3 linked regions of the Homo sapiens genome follow. The protein of the gene in region 1 interacts with the protein of each later gene in a pairwise test. Each region holds a gene or a part of one and is shown on either strand. Other genes may lie near its edges.

Evidence for each region.
Region 2: the proteins of C12orf57 (region 1) and INSL3 interact in binary tests that used the Homo sapiens proteins (3 or more experiments, as listed by UniProt).
Region 3: the proteins of C12orf57 (region 1) and ANKK1 interact in binary tests that used the Homo sapiens proteins (3 or more experiments, as listed by UniProt).

The regions. Positions count from the first base shown.
Region 1 is NC_000012.12:6,942,399-6,946,502, forward strand, and holds C12orf57 (protein C10), read left to right. Parts: upstream 1-1,623; 5' UTR 1,624-1,723; coding exon 1,724-1,775; intron 1,776-1,981; exon of another isoform or gene 1,982-2,077; coding exon 2,078-2,254; intron 2,255-3,372; coding exon 3,373-3,524; 3' UTR 3,525-3,604; downstream 3,605-4,104. UniProt on the Homo sapiens protein: In brain, may be required for corpus callosum development.
Region 2 is NC_000019.10:17,815,761-17,818,559, reverse strand, and holds the end of INSL3 (insulin-like 3 isoform 2 precursor), read left to right. Parts: intron 1-1,500; coding exon 1,501-1,706; 3' UTR 1,707-2,048; downstream 2,049-2,799. UniProt on the Homo sapiens protein: Seems to play a role in testicular function. May be a trophic hormone with a role in testicular descent in fetal life. Is a ligand for LGR8 receptor.
Region 3 is NC_000011.10:113,397,739-113,401,167, reverse strand, and holds the end of ANKK1 (ankyrin repeat and protein kinase domain-containing protein 1), read right to left. Parts: intron 3,189-3,429; coding exon 3,152-3,188; intron 2,208-3,151; coding exon of another isoform or gene 2,205-2,207; coding exon 901-2,204; 3' UTR 752-900; downstream 1-751.

The sequences.
Region 1 (4,104 bases):
CCAGGGCCTGGCAGGGAAGCGGGAAGAGACCAGACCTTCTTAAGGAACGGGGTGTGGGGGCTGGGAAGAATTGGAGAGGGGATCCCTGAAGAGCCCAGAGCCTTGACTCAGCTGGAGGCGGTACCATGGGTGCTGGTGCCCCCTCCTGCCCCAAGGCTGGGCAGGACCGCTGCGCGCCAGTGGAGGCCTCGGTCTGGGCTCTGTGGCTTATGCCTGTGAGACGCGGGTGGATTGCTTGAGCCCAGGAGTTGGAAACCAGCTTGGGCAACATAGAGAAACCCCATCTTAAGACAAAATCAGCTGGGGGTTGTGGTGCACTTGTGGTCCCAGCTACTCAGGAGGCTGAGGTGGGAGGATCACTTGGGGGTCGAGGCTACAGTGAGTCATGATCGCACCACTGCACTCTAGCCTGGGTGACAGAGCAAGGCCCTATCTCAAAACAAACAAACAAAAGACACCCCAACCAACCAAACACTAGAGGCCTGGGACAGGCCCACCTCTGACGTGGTCAGTTCTAGGAATCTATTCAGACGGGTCTCACTGCTAGGAGCCACCAGAGTCCTCCGGAACAAGGGCTTCAGAGTCCTGAAACCTTTCCGTGGAATACTTTAAGAAACGGTTATGAGGCCAGGCGCGACGGCTCACGCTGGTAATCCCAGGACTTTGGGAGGCCGAGGCGGGCGGATCACGAGGTCAGGAGTTCCAGACCAGCTTGGCCAACATGGCAAAACCCTGTCTCTACTAAAAACAAAACATTAGCTGGGCATGGTGGCGCGCGCCTGTCGTCCCAGCGACTTGGGAGGTTGAGGCAGGAGAATCGCTTGAACCCGGGAGGTGGAGGTTATGGTGAGCCAAGATCCCCCCCAGCTGCACTCCAGCTTGGCGACAGAGCAAGACTCCGTCTCAAAAACAAAAAACAAAGCCGGTTATGAAGCGGGGGTGGGGTGGGCTAGTTTTAATAGGTCCAGGCGATTAGTACCTGGCATCCTTAACCACCTACAGTTTGAGAAGGGAGTGGGTGATAAAAGCCTGGAAGGGAAGGGAAATCGGGCCGGGCATTAGGCTCCATCGCTCATCAATAGACAAGGCCTTTAGGAAACTGCGACAACGGCTTTTGCTCTGGGCCTTTACTGCCGAATCCAGGTCTCCGGGCTTAACAACAACGAAGGGGCTGTGACTGGCTGCTTTCTCAACCAATCAGCACCGAACTCATTTGCATGGGCTGAGAACAAATGTTCGCGAACTCTAGAAATGAATGACTTAAGTAAGTTCCTTAGAATATTATTTTTCCTACTGAAAGTTACCACATGCGTCGTTGTTTATACAGTAATAGGAACAAGAAAAAAGTCACCTAAGCTCACCCTCATCAATTGTGGAGTTCCTTTATATCCCATCTTCTCTCCAAACACATACGCAGCAGTGTTACAGCTCTTTTAGAATTTGTCTAGTAGGCTTTCTGGCTTTTTACCGGAAAGCCCCTCTTATGATGTTTGTTGCCAATGATAGATTGTTTTCACTGTGCAAAAATTATGGGTAGTTTTGGTGGTCTTGATGCAGTTGTAAGCTTGGGGTATGAAGGTTTGGGCCACGCCTGGGCGCTTCCGGCTGCGCCGGATGCTGTTTCCTTTCCGCTCCCAGGGGCGTTGGGAACGGTTGTAGGACGTGGCTCTTTATTCGTGAGTTTTCCATTTACCTCCGCTGAACCTAGAGCTTCAGACGCCCTATGGCGTCCGCCTCGACCCAACCGGCGGCCTTGAGCGCTGAGCAAGCAAAGGGTGAGAATCGTCCTAGTCAAGGCATAGGCTGCTGGCCTGGGGTAGTCAAGGCATGGGCTGCTGGTCTGGGGAGGATGCGGGCGGAGGATGTGGGGCGACAAACCTGGCTACGTCCGCCGGGAAAATGGGGTAGGGGACGCCGGGTACCGTCCTTCTAAGTGGGGCGCTTGCCCCCAAGACTTGGGATCTTATTGGGTTACCTACAGCCTCAATCCACTAATTCCTTGCGCTCTCCGCTGGGCCCGCTGTCTGTTCTCCGACGCCTACCCGGGACGCCTCCCTGGGATGCTTCTGGCGCGCAGTGGTCCTCGCGGAGGTGATCCAGGCGTTCTCCGCCCCGGAGAATGCAGTGCGCATGGACGAGGCTCGGGATAACGCCTGCAACGACATGGGTAAGATGCTGCAATTCGTGCTGCCCGTGGCCACGCAGATCCAGCAGGAGGTTATCAAAGCCTATGGCTTCAGCTGCGACGGGGAAGGTGGGTCAGACGCGGGAAGGCGGGTCAGACGCGGGAAGGCGGGAGTTGGGTCGGGAGAGGGCGCCGGATCTGTGGGCCCATGAGCGGTTGTCCCCTTTCTCGCCACACGGCGGCAGCCACAATCTGACTAACATTCTTGGCACTCAGAGCCCAGGGTCTACCCTGAGCTTGTGCGTCCGAGTTGCGTTTTGTACAGTAGAGGTTCTGTATCCCTTACCCGAAATGGTTGGGACCGGAAGTGTTTCGGGTTTTTTCAGATTTCGGAATATTTACATATACATGGATATCTTGGGGGATGGGACCTAAATCTGAACACGAAATTGTTTTGTTTCATATACACGCACCTTATGCACATAGCCTGAGGGTAATTTTATATAATAGTCTGAATAATTTTGTGCATGAGACAAAGTTTTGACTGCGTTTTGACTACAGTCTCCCCCACCCCCCACTATGAAGTCAGGTGTGGAATTTTCCATTTTCGGCCTCACACTGGCACTCATAATTTCAGATTTTGGATTTTCTAATTAAGGATGGTCAACCTGTACTGTTAATCACATTATTATTCCATTTTGTGATGAGGAAGCAAACTCTAATGGTGCAGACTCTCGAGTAGCAGAGCTGGACTTAAATGCTGTTGTGCCACCTTTTAGTGACATGTCTGCATGACAGCAGTGGCTGCAGTCTCTCCAGGGTGTTTCAGCTAATTTTTGTTTGGGGGGGGTTGGTGGTTAAATTTTTGGTGAGATCCTGGTGTTCCCCAAAGGTGTTGACTGATTCAGCTCTGCTGCCTCATAGCCTTCCTGAGTTCCAGCTACAGACCTGGGGTCTCGTGTTCATTCTTGGGGTTCCAGTGACTAAACTGCTAAAATGGTTCACCTGAGAGCAAGAAGCACACTGCCTTGGGACATTTTCATTCACTGCATCCCATCTAGTTGTGCCCAGTGTAGACCAAATGTCATCATCCAAACCACACGGGACAGAGGCCTGCATGCGTCCTGTTTGGCAAACAGCTGCCCAGCCAGTGGGGGAGCAGTTCATGCTTAGACTACCACCCCCTCCAGGTGTCTTAGGCACGCTGGTCCTTAGGAGAAGGGTTGACCTTCCACTCCCTCTTGCAGGTGTCCTTAAGTTTGCTCGCTTGGTCAAGTCCTACGAAGCCCAGGATCCTGAGATCGCCAGCCTGTCAGGCAAGCTGAAGGCGCTGTTTCTGCCGCCCATGACCCTGCCACCCCATGGGCCTGCTGCTGGTGGCAGCGTGGCCGCCTCCTGAGAGTTGGCCCTCCCTTGTGCCACTGCCAGGGGAGGAAAGGCCTTGATGTTCCAGACAATAATAAATGCGCCTGTGACTTAGCCTTGGTGTCAGTCTCTTGCGGACCTGACAACCCCCATCTCTCCTTCCCTGATTCCCTCTGCCTTTCCAGGCCCCATCCCCCTGAACAGCTCCTCCCTATGGTCCTGGCTGGGCCTAACCCTGCCCCAGGGCCTAACCCTACCTGAGGCTCCTCCCCTTCCCCCGGGGCAGGTTGAGAGGCTGGAGTGGGTCCCTCAGCGCCCTGGGTGGGTGGGCCTGCACAGGGGGTACCTCCTTCTCTGAGGAACTGGGCTGTTAGGGATTTTCCTTAGGCCCTTTGGTTTCCGCCTACGGAGAGGTTTCCCCCATTGGTTGCTCTTCCTCAGCCAGGGTTACTTCCTGGTCTGTTCCCCTACCCAATACCCCGCCGCTCTGTCAGCTTGAGCTCCAGGTGGAGCTCCAGGTGGCTCCTCCTCTCCCGGGGGAAGGCGGCCCTGGACCAGCAGGCGGGCCTGCTGTACTCCCGCTTTGGGGCTGCAGGGAAGCTGGCCGCTGTGGG
Region 2 (2,799 bases), on another chromosome or scaffold:
ACTGCAGCCTTGCCTTCCCAGGCTCAAGCGATCCTCCCACCTCAGCCTCCCAAGTAGCTGGGACTACAGGCATGCAGAATTATGCCCAGCTAATTTTTGTATTTTCTGCAGAGATGAGGTTTTGCTGTATTGCCAAGGCTGGTCATGAACTCCTGGGCTCAAGCAACGCACCCACCTAGGCTTCCCAAAATGCTGGGATGACAGGTGTGAGCCACGGTGCCTGGCCTCAAAAAAATATCCTGATGGCTTCGTGCCTCCCTGTCTGTACCCTAGTCCTGGCCCTGGTGCAGGGATATACGACAAGTTTGTGCAGATGTGTTAACACGTGTCCACATGTCTCTGTGTGCCACTCCACTTGCGGTGTTAGGGATCCAGGGGAGGTGGTCTGCAAGGGTGTGTCCTCGTAGGGGTGTGTGTGTGTCTGTGGGTCCACCACACATGCGTGGGTGACCAGGAAGTGGACCCACAGACACATGTACACCCCTGCATGTCTCTGTACCACGAGGAGTCTGTGGGTGGGTCTCTGACCTGCTCTGGGTGTCTCACGGACCCTTGGACCTGTTGGGGAAACTGACACCATCTGTAGCTCCAAGACCCCCGACACTCCCTGGGCAGGGCATGGGGCACTCAGGTGGCATATGGGGACCCACGCAGCTGGGGATGTGAGTGTGGACATGAGTTGAGTGGATGAGAGGATTAACCAGGTGCCTGGCGTACAGTAGGTGCTTAATAAGTGCTCGCTTTTTTTTTTTTTTTTTTTTTTTGAGATGGAGTTTCATTCTTGTCACCTAGGCTGGAGTGCAATGGCATGATCCCAGCTCCCTGCAACCTCCACCTCCTGGGTTCAAGTGATTCTCCCACCCCAGCCTCCCCAGTAGCTGGGATTACAGGCGTCCACCACCACGCCTGACTAATTTTTGTATTTTTTAGTAGAGACAGGTTTTTACCATGTTGGCCAGGCTGATCTCAAACTCCTGACCTCAAGTGATCCACCCACCTCGGCCTCCCAAAGTGCTGGGATTACAGGCGTGAGCCACTGAGCCGGGCCAGTGCTCACTTTTTTTTTTTTTTTTTTGAGACAGAGTCTCACTCTGTCACCCAGGCTGGAGTGCAGTGGCGTGATCTCGGCTCACTGCAAGCTCTGCCTCCTGGGTTCACGTCATTCTCCTGCCTCAGCCTCCTGAGTAGCTGGGACTACAGGCGCCCGCCACCACACCCGGCTAATTTTTTGGTTGTTTTTTTTTTTAGTAGAGAAGGGGTTTCACTGTGTTAGCCAGGATGGTCTCAAACTCCTGACCTCGTGATCCGCCCACCTCGGCCTCCCAAAGTGCTGGGATTACAGGTGTAAGCCACTGCACCCGGCCAGTGCTCACTTTTTATCTGCATGCATGAGTGTTTGGTGGGTTACTCAGTGGGATGTGTGTGGATTCGTGCACATGCAGCATGGGGTAGCATGTCCTCTGTCGTTTCCGTTCCAGCTGAGTTTCACTCTGTCCCCAGGTGAGTTGCTACAGTGGCTGGAGAGACGACATCTGCTCCATGGGCTGGTGGCCGACAGTAATCTCACGCTGGGACCTGGCCTGCAGCCCCTGCCCCAGACCTCTCACCATCACCGCCACCACCGTGCAGCTGCCACCAACCCTGCACGCTACTGCTGCCTCAGTGGCTGTACCCAACAAGACCTGCTGACCCTCTGTCCCTACTGATTCCTCCTTGGGTGCAGCCTCAGAGTGGCCTGAGGCCCAGAGGGTCTGGTCTGGTGAGCTCCTGAGGCCACACAGCACCATAAAGTCTCGCATCTACAGGCCTTTGATTACCTCCTGGGATGGGTGCTCACTATCTACCCCAGACCAATGCCACCTGCAGCCTGTGGAGTCAACTGCAGAATAAATCACACCCTAGCCCTGGCTTGGAGGATCCCCGCTTTCACAGATGCTGGACACTGACAGCCAAATGTCCTCACTCCAGGGGAGCCCCAGACGCTCCGCTCCCTGCATGTGTAACACCCCTTCTTGCTGTCTCTTAGTAAATAAACGACCCAAAGCAGCTTCCTGCATTTTCTCTAGAAAAAGGGACAAGCCTCAGTCAGTCCCTGTGTGGGCTTGTCCCCCAGCAGCCATGGACCCACCGGCACTTCCAGGAGCTTGATAACTAGAGAGGCATTGCAACGCAAAGTGGGGAAACTGAGGCCCAGGGAGAGGGCTGCTTGCCAAGGTCAGACAGGGAAGGGTAAGTGCAGGACTTGAACCGAGGTCTCTACCAAGGCCCATGGGAGTCCTTAGCATTGAGGACTTAGAATGGTAGACATTAGACACAAAACAAATGTCAGAAAATGATCATCACAAAACACATTAGTCTTTTTTTTTTTTTTTTTTTTTGAGGCAGGGTCTCACTCTGTCACCCAGGCTGGAGTGCAGTGGCACAATCATAGCTTACTGCAGCCTCCAACTCCTGGGCTGAAGTGATCCTCCCACTTCAGCCTCCTAAGTAGCTGGGATTACAGGCACCCGCCACCACACCCAGCTAATTTTTGCATTTTTAGTAGAGACGGGGTTTCACCATGTTGGCCAGGCTGGTCTTGAACTCCTGAACTCAGGTGATCCGCCCACCTCGGCCTCCCAAAGTGTTGAGATTACAGGCATGAGCCACGTGCCTGGCCCAGTCATCGGATTTAGGGTCCACCCTAATCCATGATAACCTCATGTCTGTCTATAAAGACCCTATTTCCAAATAAGCCCATATTCTGAGGTGAATTCTCAGAATATGAATTCTCAGAATATGAATATGAATTCTCAGACA
Region 3 (3,429 bases), on another chromosome or scaffold:
TTGGGACCAGGGGCACTGGACAGGTGTGGTCAGTGTGGCAACAGATGGCTGGCTGGGACTTTAGTGAGCAGAAACCTCCTTTGAACTTTTAGCTTCTGCCCCTTGAGCAAAGCACACGTGTCTGGCTCTCCCGCCCCAGCCTGAGGTAAGGAGCCAAGAGCCCAAGACGTGAGATGGGAGGATCCTGCTTCCCTCACCGCTGTGCCTCCCTCCATCTCCAGAGGGGGTCTGCTAGGATGCAAGGGCCCCTGTGAACTCAGAAGCGAGTGGCAAAAGGTGGTAGGTGTCTTGGATTGGAGAGGGTATTCATTTGGGGAGCTTGCATCCCCATAAAGGAGGAGGAGGAGGCCTGGGGTCTGTTGGAAGTGACTGGAGGATGTGTTGAAGGCAGCTCTCCAAGCCAGAGCCCCTTCCTCAGCTACAGCCACAGTGATACCTCTCCCCATGCCCCCATCACCCAGGTTCCTGTCTCCTCTCAAGGTGGAAGGGGCAGGTGAAGACTGCAGACAGGGAAGATGCCCTGCCAGAAGCCCAGCTGCACTTTCACCAGTTCCTACTCCATCCAGGCGAGAGGCCCCAAGTAGTCTAAATTTCTTTCTTTCTTTCTTTTTTATATGGAGTCTCGCTCTGTTGCCCAGGCTGGAGTGCAGTGGTGCGATCTCGGCTCACTGCAACCTCTGCCTCCTGGGTTCAAGGAATTCTCCTGCCTCAGCCTCCCTGGTAGTTGGGATTACAGGCACGTGCCACCATACCCAGCTAAATTTTGTATTTTTAGCAGAGACAGGGTTTTGCCATGTTGGCCAGGCTGGCCTCAAACTCTTGATATCAGGTGATCTGCCTGCCTCAGCCTCCCAAAGTGCTGGGATTACAGACGTGAGCCACCACGGCTGGCCAAGTTGTCTAAATTTCCATCTCGGCTCCTGGCTTAGAACCACCCAGAGTGGCCACTGACGGCTCCTTGCCCTCTAGGAAGGACATGATGCCCTGCTTTCGGCTGCGGAGGGCCAGTTGCAGGGGTGTGCAGCTCACTCCATCCTGGACGTCCAGCTGGGCGCCTGCCTCGACCAGCACTTTGAGGATGGCTGTGTTGCCCTTGAGGGCGGCCAGGTGGGCGGGTGTCCAGCCCACCTTGTTGCGGGCGTGGACATTTGCGTGATGTTCTAGGAGGTTGATGACACTCAGGAAGGTGCTCCTCTGGACCGCCAGGTGGAGGGGTGTCCAGCCTGACTGCTCTGCAGCATTGGGGTCAGCCCCACACTGCAGCAGTGCTGACACCACCGCCTCCTCCCCGTGGCGTGCAGCTAGGTGCAGGGGAGTCCAGTTCACAGCTCCAAGAGCACCCATGTTTGCGTGGCTCTCTGCCAGCAGATGGATGATCTCCAGGTGGCCCTTGTAGGCTGCTAGATGCAGGGGTGTCCAGCCCTGGTGGGTGGGCAGCTCAAGGCTGGCTCCGTACCTGAGCAGCATCTTGCAGATCAGGTATTTGCCCCTGGCAGCTGCAGTGTGCAGTGGGCCGTAGCCGCTCTGGTCAAGGGCATCAGGGACCGCTCCACTCTTCAGCAGGTGTTGGATGGCCCTCACTTTGCCCCGCTCTACTGCCAGGTGCAGTGGTGTTCTCAGGTTTCTCTGCTGAGCATCCAACTCAGCCCCCTGGCTGGTCAGCAGCTTGACCAGGCTAACATGGCCAAAGTAGGCGGCCACATGGAGGGGGGTCTTGCCCTCAGCCTCATGCAGGTTGGGGTCAGCCTGACGGGAGACCAGAAGCCGTGCCACATTCTCAAAGTTATTCTGTGCAGCCAGGTGAAGAGGGGTCCACCCTTCACGTTCCTGGGCATCCACACAGGCCCCGTGGTCCAGGAGCAGGCGCGCAGTGCCGTCATCCCCATTCTGGGCTGCAAAGTGCAGTGGGGCCCAGCCATCCTCATCCACTCGGTTGGCATCAGCACCATGTGCCAAAAGCAGGGCACAGAGGTCGGGTTGCTGGTCCTGGGCGGCGATCAGGAGGGGCGTGTATCCAGAGGCCGTCTGGCAGTCCACGTCTACCTCGTGGGCCAGCAGCAACCTCACCTGCTCCACACTGCCCTGGGCCACCAGGAAGTGGAGGGGGGTGACCTTGTTCTCATAGATACACAGTTCCTCATCTCTCGGGACCAAATTCTTACGGTCGGAGAGCTGAAGGGCCCGCTTCAGGTAGTTTCCTGAGTCTGCTGGGAGAAAGATGGGGTTGAAAAAAAAGACCTGTGACCCGTCCAGAGGTCATCATGGCCATCCCCCTGCCTCCTGGAAGTACCATCCAGGAACAGAGGCTAGAGCAGTAAGGGCAATGCCTTTCCTAAGCATGGCTCTCTACACAGCCATAAATGTTACTATTCAAGTTCAGGCTCGGTCGTCCTGGAGAGCTGAGTCCTGCAGTCCTTTCCTCACAGGTGAGGCAGAAAGAGCAGTGGGCTCAGGAGGCCCGAGTGCAAATCCTGATTTCACTCCTCAGCATCCCCCGACCTTAGCCAATTCACTGCCTCTTTGAGCTTCCATATCTGGATCAGATATGGAAGAGGGGACAAACAATGATCAGTTCATTCTACCATTGGAAGGACAAATTATATAGGTAAAAACTTTCAGTGGAGGACCTGAGGGAAAGTAAGCAATTCTAAGTTGGAAATAAACTTGTGGTTGGAGTTCTATGATCTAAACTCCCCTCTGAGGTCTTAAGGATCAACATCCTTCTGCTCTACCCAGTGGAGTATGAGAATTAAAATGACAAAAATGATCACTACCCAGGCCTAACCCTCACAGATTCTGGTTTAATTAGTCTAGGGTGTGCCCAAGGCAAAGCTTTTTTTTTTTTTTTTTTTTAATTTCCCGAGCAATTCTAACATGCAGCCAGCCTTGAGAACCAATGCTCCACCTTTCAGGTCAGGAAAGGGAAAATTCCGTCTTGCAAGGACACAGACTTGAAAGGGAGGCAGCCAGGCTCCCTGAGGGCATGTGCTTTCTGAACATGCAGCTGGGTGCTGGAAAAGGGCACCTAAACCCTGGATGTGTGATAGGCCTGGGGATGAGGGGGAGGCCAGGGGGATGGGGAAAGGGTGTGGTTTGACTCCATTTTCTCTGCTGTGAGTTCTCTGGTCCCGCCCGTGGCACCCAGACTCACCACTGTCCATCAGTTCCTGGCTGATGTCCTCATTAACCTGGGGAGGCATAACCAGCAGGCAGGGTGGAGATCAGTGGCGCAGTTCTAGCCTGTGCCCTCCTCCCCTCCTTCCCTCTCTCCAACCTTCCCGGTCACTGTCAGGACTCACATCCCACCCTATCCTGGGAAACCTTTATCCTTTGCCATGACTATCCCCAGCTGTCTAGAGGAAAACACTGAGCTGGAGAAACCCTCCAGAAAGAGGCAGCTCAGGGCCTTGCCTTCCCCTTGGGCCATGT